2 separate regions of the Homo sapiens genome follow, and region 2 is linked to region 1. The links come from fine-mapping of genetic effects on gene expression. A gene starts in region 1. The other region holds a variant in brackets. All regions are shown on one strand. Distances are from middle to middle.

Region 1 (4,000 bases):
TGCTAAGGAAAGAGAACCACAGACACAAGCCACTCCTGTGACAGCTGGCTCCTGTGGGCAGCCTGATCCTCTGCAGCGCAGAAATGGAAGGACACTGGGCAGGCCCAGAGATATTTTTGTGCCTCCTTTGGGAAGGCTCTTTGGATCTAGCCTGTCCACAATATACGGGCACCTTATGATGCCTTGAGTGTGCCAGAGACATTTCCCCTGGGTGCACGATGGTCCTGTTTACCACTGCCACAGTACCTTGAGAGGCCACAGGACGCTGTGGCTTTGAATGTGGACCTTGCAGACCAAAAGGTCAGATTCCTGACTCCAACACTTGCAGCCGTCCAGCCTTAAGCAAGACTTTTAAGCTCTCATAACCTGTTTCCAGACCTGAAAATGGGAGTAACGATCACCTGTAACTCATGGTAGCCTTGACCGAAGTCAGTGAGAGAAATCTGCACACAAGCTTGGGCCAGTGCTCAACAAAGGCTTGCTGGTATGGCCTGTGTTGTTGTTCACTGTGAGGTCACCGTGCGTGGGTTAGACAGTGTCCCCCACCCCCGCCACCACAAGGCACTCATGACCCGGCCTGTTTGTGCAAGAACAGATGATGCAAACCAGCATGGCACCCAGCGGAGCTGCTGCCAGCTTCTTGGGGACGCTGTGCAGCACATGGGCCTGCCACCAGCTGTCAGGACCCGTCCAACTGTTTTGGAAGTGCCTCGAGCATCTGCCACTGTCTGCCTCATGGTGCTTCTGCCCAGGCAGAGGTCAGGGCTGTGGCGGGGGTGCTGGCCCCAGCTGGCTCTGCCTGCGTCCCTCTGAGCCCCCTCAAGCCCTCGCCTCACGAAACAAGCTTATCTTCAGAAGAGCATTCCTGTCCTGTGCAGGGGCTCAGCTTCTGCCCTGCTTCAGGCCTTCCTCATTTACCTGCCCTCCCTAGGAGTCACCAGCCTCCTTGCCTCCTCATTCCAGTGCATACCCCTGGCTTCCCGAAGAGCCACCGAAGCCAAATCTCACATCCTCCAAGGGGAATGGGCCACTGAAATGAAAATGATTCTCCACCTAGAGGCACCAGAAACCAAGTCATGTTTCTGGGCCTCCACCTCTGGGGCCTGAGATGTGAACACACGGGTGGGAGTGTAGGTGCCTGGCTGTGTCCCTTCATATCCCAGATGCTCAATGCATGTGGCTATGTGCATGCCGTCCTCTGCTCAAAAACTCTCAGAAAGTGTTCCAACTTCTTGCTTGGCCTGGAAGGATGTGCCTCTCCCTCTGGCCTCCCCTTCTAGCCTCACCCCCATTTTTCACATGCAGAACCCTTTGCCAGAGCCACATTTCACTTTCCATCATCACCCCAGGTCCCTTGACTTCCCTGCCTTTGCCCAAGCTGCTCCTCCACCTGGAGGTCTCTGTTTCCACCCTGAGGCATCCCACCCATCCTTTCAAAGGCCATGGCCTCCTTAAATGTGTCATGCATATGCGTGTGCACACACATGCATGGTATTCTTGCATCCCTGCATTCCACAGCTTTGTTGGATCTCACATAAATAACATTCCTCCATTTCCTCTCCTAATCCCCAAACAGTTGAAAGCAGAGCACATGGCACCTTGGCTGCTATGGTCTCCCACAATACCGTGCATGCCTAGGCACTCTGCAACAGCTACATTAAATTAACTCCCACTCATGAAAACCTCTATCTGTGCGCCTGGCCTGAAAGCATTTCTGAAAGTCACTTGTCTGACACAGATACCGCCCAAGACCTACAGACCCAACAATAGCATCATTGATAAGTCCTTTTGCATTTCCATTTTTAGAAGTGCACAGCAGAGTGATATTCTGAGCCAGAGTCCTCCAGAAGAATGGGTAAGTACATGCAAATTGCTGAGTCTCTGTTCATTGCATCCAAAACGAAAGTCACCAGCGTGCTGTATAACTCAAGAAAATACGAGAGAGAGGGAAAAGCAACATCACAGTTTGACTACAAGCGGTTTCCAGTAAGTACTGCAGCCGAAAATCCCCACCAGCCAAAGAATCTTTTGCAAGATCTGTATAAGAAAGTTGAAAGCATGCATTACCTGTTAGGCTCTGAAACAAGGGTACAATTCAGGGGTAATACAAAGGATTTTCTTGAAAGTGTCTTAATTCAGAACATGCTCCCCGAGTTTTCCTTCTGCCCTGGCCCCAAGCTTCTGGCTGCTCTGCCAGGCAGTTCTGAAACGCTGTCCTTTGAAGCAGGGAGTTTATTTTGGGGCCACCGCATGACCAACGTTGACAAGCCAAACTATAAGATGTTATACATCTCAGATTTCCTGTTTGGAGGTTGCACTGAGGAAGCTGCAATCCTGCCTTCCGTTCCTCCGGGTGCATCGAATACAGACTCTCACTTCAGAGAGGATCCCGGAGCTTTGGCCCTCACGTGATGTCATCATTTGTGATCCTTGACATGGAGGCCATATATGGGTATGTTTCTGGAACTACCCAGGGGAGAGCCAGACAGGAGAGAGATGCAGTGGGTCAGAGACAGAGGCAGGGAACGAGGACGAGGAGACGCATAGTTGGGAGACAAAGAGTGAGGAGCAAGGGAGGAGGAAGAAAGGGGAAGAGGAGAAGTAAAGGCAACAAAGGAGGGAAGGCAAGACAGCAGGAAGGAAGAGGATGGAGTGAAAGAGAAGGGAAGAAGGGGAGAGAGGAGATGAAGGAGTTGACGTAAAAGGGCTTTGGAGAAATCAAGGTTTGGTGCTGAGCTTGTGGCAGCATTTGGGGATAGCAGGTGTCTGGCTGCTGGATACTGTGGGGTGGGGCTGGGGATACAAAGGGCCAGGGTACAAATGAGCCAACAAACAAACACAGAGGCATGCGGGCAAGCCCTGGGCAGAGATATACAACAGAAGAGAGCCCTTCCTCCTGGTCTAGGGAAGAACGTCCCATTTCTGGAATAGGTCAAATGTCAAAGACAACACATACACAGCCACATGCACTGAGCATCCGGGATGTGACAGGACATGGCCAGGCACCTACTCTCCCACCCGTGTGTTCACATCTCATGCCTCAGAGTTAGGGGTCCAGAAACATGACTTGGTCTGTTCCTCTAAGGGGAGAATCATTTTTGTTTCAGTGGCCCATTCCCCTTGGAGGATGTGGATTTATGATGGCCACAGCATGATTTCTCACTGATTCAAACTCAGGAAACCTCAGGATGCCTTTACACGCACTTCGAATATTCCACAAGGAAATACATCTCAGTATACAAGGTGCCACGGGGTTGAGTCAAGGTTCTGGAGGTCTGACTGGTGCTAAAGATGGGAAGGACACCAGTGGTCCCCAGGCAGTCCCCCAGCTTCCCTGGTACCTGCCAAATTGCTCATCACCCCAGCTGGGTCAGTCTTCCCAGGCCACTGTGGCTGGGTGGCCCTCAAAGTTAGCTCAAGTTCAGCCCCTTCCAGACCCATGTGCTATGGAGGGAGTGTAGGAGAAGGGCAGAGAAGGGGCTGTCAGATTCTTTTTACTTTTTGGAGACTCTGCTACCCAGTAGGATGTTCCCCGAGAGACGTCTCTGTGGGACGGCTCCCCGAGGCCGGGCTGCTTTCCTGGGCTCCTTGCTGGAGGCAAAACACAGGTTCCTCTACTTCCTGCCCACCACCTGCCCCTTCCCAATCTGACCTGGAAGGTGGGCTGTGGCCAGGCCAGGCCCCTCCTAGGTTGCCCTCTGCCTCATGGGCATGCACACATGCACACACACACACACACATACACACCCCAAACTCCATCCAAGATGTGTCTATTCCTTCCCTCCCCTTGAATATGGGGTGGCCTAGTGATGGACTTAACAATAGAATGCAGTGGAAATGATGTCCTGAGACTTCCAAGGCTAGGTCATGAGATGCTTTGTAGCTGCCATGTTGTGAGGAAGTCCAAGCAAGCAACACCCAGGGCCCCCAGAGCATCTAGCACCAGGCAGAGGGGTGAAGACACCCTCTCGGAGGTGGATCCTTCACCTGCAGCTGCCAC
Region 2 (4,000 bases), 20 kb before region 1:
GAGGCCTGGAGAGGTGGCAGCAGGGGGTGGGGACAACTCATTTCCCCTCTCGTAACTCCATGACTAACTGACAAATGAAAGTGACAGCCTTGCCTGCCCTTCTCCCAAGATGATTGTGGGCAAAGAACATGAAGCCCCAGGAGCGGCAGCCCTTCCCCTAGTCCCTTTCCCACCTCTTGCCACCGTCAGAGCCCAGCCCTCACCTCGCTGCAGGACTTTCAGGCAGCCCACCTGGCCATAGTATGCGGCCTCGTGCAGCGGCAGCCAGCCCTCCTTGTTGGGCTCTGCGAGATTCTTCCCTTCCTTGATCATGGTCTTCAAGGCCTCTTCATCGCCATCCTTGATGGCCTTTATCAAGGGGTCCGCAGGCCTGTGAGAGGAAGGAGTGGGTCAGTCCTCAAGGTCAGGCCAAGGCCAGGCCAGGGGGCCTCTCTCTCAGGAGTGCTGGCAGTGGAGTCACTCGGTCCTCGTCCCTGCTGGTTCCAGGATGAGCACTCAGCCCCCTGCAGCCCAGTGGCTGCAAGAGGACTGGGGGATCCCTCCATCTCTGTGGCTTTCCATGGCTGCCGGGAATGTTATACCAAAACCAATTCTACCAAGAGGATTCAGGCACACAATGCCAGCCTCCTAGAGGGTGGCTAACCACCCACATGTGAGGCACTTGTGATAATTAAATGCTTTCCCTGAGTATAGCACTCTAGCATTTACCAGGCACGCCCATCTCGGGGGCCCCCTCTTAACCCTGAGCATATCTCTGGGGTCTTCCAACTCCTCTCCTTGCCCTGTCGCTTATTCCTACTCCCAGTACATCCAGCTGCAGAAAAAAAATATATACTGGAAGGATTAATAAATTTGAAGCCTTCACAGTTTAAAACTTCTGAATGTCAAAAAGATTTGAGGGCTAAAGTGAAGCCGTTCCTTGCTTGGCTTGTTAAAGTCCCTTTGTTCATTCATTGCTTCCTTCCTTCCTTCATTCATTCACTGAGCTCCCTACCTCATCCTTGGAGAGTCCGTGAGAACCACGATGTCTATGCCTCTCAGATCCACTTTTGGGGAGGCTTCTGCATCAATAGTCCCATTTCCCAGATGGAGAAGGTGAGGCTGGAGGCAGGCCTCATTCCCAGGACACCCACGCCATGTTGGGCTAGGATGGGCTCTGGGCGGTCTCTGCCACCAGCCCCTGCACTCTCCCAGCCACTTCCTCCAGCGTGAGCAGCACTTCCTCCTGACTCTCAGACTCTGTGGTTATTAATGGTGTCAGAGCACAGATGCCGGTGAAGCAACAGACCCAGCAAGGACGATGGGAAACTGATCAGATAAGTCCTGAGGTCCCCATCAGCACCGTCACTGCCACCTTGACGAGTTCCACTTAGGAACAGCCAGAGCAGCCCCTGTCAGCATCAGGAAAAGCCCAGTGGGGGTATGTGCCCCCCTTTTCCTGGAGTGTCTCCAAAGGGACCCCAGCTGAAGTGGAAGGGAGGAGGGCTGGCTTTTCTCGTGGCCTTGGCGAGCAGGGCGTGGTGCAGTGTCGTGAGAACACTTTCAGGACCTGCCGCCCAGCTTGGGTCTCTCCAGCTGTGATGCAAGGACCCTGGAGCCCTCAGCCCACATATTCACAGCTTCTCCATGACCTCAGGCAAAGTCCCCGCCCTATGAGTGGGGGAGGGTTCTGGGGGTGTCAGGCCATCAGAGTAGTAAGCTGGACGGGACCCTAGAGGTCACGTTGCCCTCTCCAGCCGTGTCCTGCAGAGAAGGGAGACTCAGAGGGGACAGCGACTCTCAGGCAGTCATGCAGGAGGTGGCAGTAGCTGAGACCAGCTCTGGGTCTCCCTTTTCCAGATTGTCAACCACTCCACACACCCACCACACCAAGGAAGTGGAGGGCGACAGGATTTGAAAAAGGCTGGGAAGGAGAAAGAAAATATTGGCCAATTGCCTCCTCCCTTCTCTACAACGTAACTGAGTGAGGAAATGCAGTTCCAGTGATAGGGTCCCTCTTTTGCTTTTGGCTGCTTCCGGGGTCACTATTCCAGGGGTACAGAGAGGGGAGGGAGGCAGAATTATTTTCTAAGGAGCGCATTAGCCCTGCCCCCTGGTGCCAGGCAAACAGAGCCCCTGCAGCTTAGATTATTTCTGGATTTTAGCACCTGGCACTTCACAAAT[A/T]AGGGCAAATAAACAAAACAAAGGCTGTGGGTGTGGGCATTTTGGATGTACCCACAGCGATGGCATGGGGGAAAGTGAGACTGGGACAAACAGAAGGGTGCAGCCAACTCATCAAGTTCAACTCCAAGCTCTCCTGGGCCTCTGGGGTTCTAAGGCCATCTCCCCAATTTCCCTCGTGCTGGGTCCCCAGTTTCAGAGCCCCATGGGGCTCCTCCAGCACTCAGGTCCCATGCTGGGGGCATCTGAGGGGGGGATCACCAGCATGCCTGGCTGGAAGTTCCTTGAGGACTGAAGTCTGTGGCCACCAAGCCCATCTCAGCAGGAGCAGTGGGGCCCCAGGGGGGCACCCCTAGAAGGAGCGTGCCTGGCAGGTGCCTCCATAGTGCCCTCTGCCCTCCTGGGGGCTGTGGGCCTGCTTCCCACCCTCCCTGCCATCCCAGTTAGCGGAGTGAACTTGGATGGTCCTGGGGCCAGACAGGAGTCACTTACGCCAGCTGGGAGGTCTTGAACAAGCTGCTGCTGTATTTCTGCATGACCCCTTGGAACAAGCCCATTGGGGCCCGGGCCGGCGAACTCTCAGGAGGTGCAGTGGACCTGGAGGGTGCAGAGCAGGAGTGAAAGAGGGAAAAGTACTCTGCATAGGAGAAGCGGGTCATGGCTTCAGGCAGGAATGAGGATGGAGGGAGAGCCAGGGAGAGACTGACTGACAGACACAGGGCTCTGAACCAAAGCAGATGGCCGGGTCCTCTGTGTGCTGGACACAGCTGCTGTGTCTCCGGATTATTTTTGGCCCTTGGAGGAAGCCCTGGGAGATTTAAATGACCATATAAGACAACAATGAGGTTAACCTCACCCCACCCCCCGGTCCCCCTCCCCAGCCAACCACGAAAGAGGCAGATAGGAAGCAAGGTGACATTCTTCACCCAGGAGGATGTGAGCCGTGGTCGGCAGGTCCCAGGATGAAAGGGGCTCAGGCTCACTGCTGGCCAGGCAGATCCCTGCGGGGCTGGATGAGAGATTCATGGCAAAGCAGAGGATAGGGGAGCAAAGCTGAGAAGCCAAGCTGTACCTGTGCCCCCCACGCCCACCTGCCAGCTCATTAGGGGATCTTGTCCCAGGGGTAGGAGCAGACACTATAGTAACCTCTATAGTGTTATTATAGGATGCATGAGGAAGGGCGTCGGAACCAGGGCTGCAGTCAGACAGACACAGGTTCACATCTGGGCTCTGGCACTCCTTGGCTGTGTGACGTGAGACAGGTTGACCTTTTCTGTGCCTTAGTCCCCGCTCCTGCAAGGTGGCATGAAAACAGCCTGTGCTCGAGGGCCGGTGAGGCCTGAGTAAGTGAATGGTGTGAGGAGCTTAGTGGAGTGTGAGGCACAGAGGGTGTTCCACATGTACTCACTCTTCATTTTATCATCATTTTGCCTCTCTAGGCCTCAGTTTTCCCGACCCACCAGGCTCCTGTGAGGGTGGAAGAGCCGGAAGGAGGTGGGATGGCCGCTCCACAAATCTGAGTTGGCCTGGGGTTGTCGTGAGAACAGGGTATATGGCCCCTACTGACACCACCCCCAGTAGGTCAGGCCTGGCACTCTCGACACCCCAGTGGCCCGGGCCTTTCACCACACTCTTCTGGGGGGGATTGGGGAGGACTCTGCTACCAGTGACTCACACCCTGTGGGGCATGGGGTAATTATGACCCTGAGAAGCACCCACACTCTTTCTGGCTAGGCCAGAGCCTACAGATTCTGTGGGTACACCCCAGCAAGGCCAGAGCCTGGTAGAGAGGAGCAAGGGTGGCAGGAGGAGGGGAACCTGCTCACCCCTCTGCTTCATG

Alleles and levels. Positions count from the first base shown, and alleles are read on the strand shown. Sizes are in standard deviations (SD) of each study's normalised expression.
For the expression in cerebellar hemisphere of the gene that starts at base 2,204 in region 1, allele A in region 2 goes with a lower level than allele T (moderate effect, 0.59 SD a copy in GTEx).

The links.
Region 2: its variant is fine-mapped to the expression of ASB2 in cerebellar hemisphere (GTEx, PIP above 0.99). The same link has a PIP of 0.9 or more in cerebellum.

The regions. Positions count from the first base shown.
Region 1 is chr14:93,974,367-93,978,366 of GRCh38, forward strand. It overlaps ASB2 (ankyrin repeat and SOCS box containing 2), which reads right to left and starts at 2,204. Exons shown (of 10, transcript NM_001202429.2): 1 at 2,068-2,204. It overlaps LOC107984663 (a long non-coding RNA gene), which reads right to left. Exons shown (of 4, transcript XR_001750861.2): 4 at 3,059-4,000. RefSeq lists an enhancer at 685-1,256.
Region 2 is chr14:93,954,114-93,958,113 of GRCh38, forward strand. It overlaps ASB2 (ankyrin repeat and SOCS box containing 2), which reads right to left. Exons shown (of 10, transcript NM_001202429.2): 3 at 2,653-2,757; 4 at 204-370. Among named protein-coding and RNA genes, the nearest start is that of MIR4506, 7.8 kb to the left of the region's middle. RefSeq lists enhancers at 1-762, 873-1,579, 1,580-2,284. The variant A/T (reference allele first, on the strand shown) is at 2,164.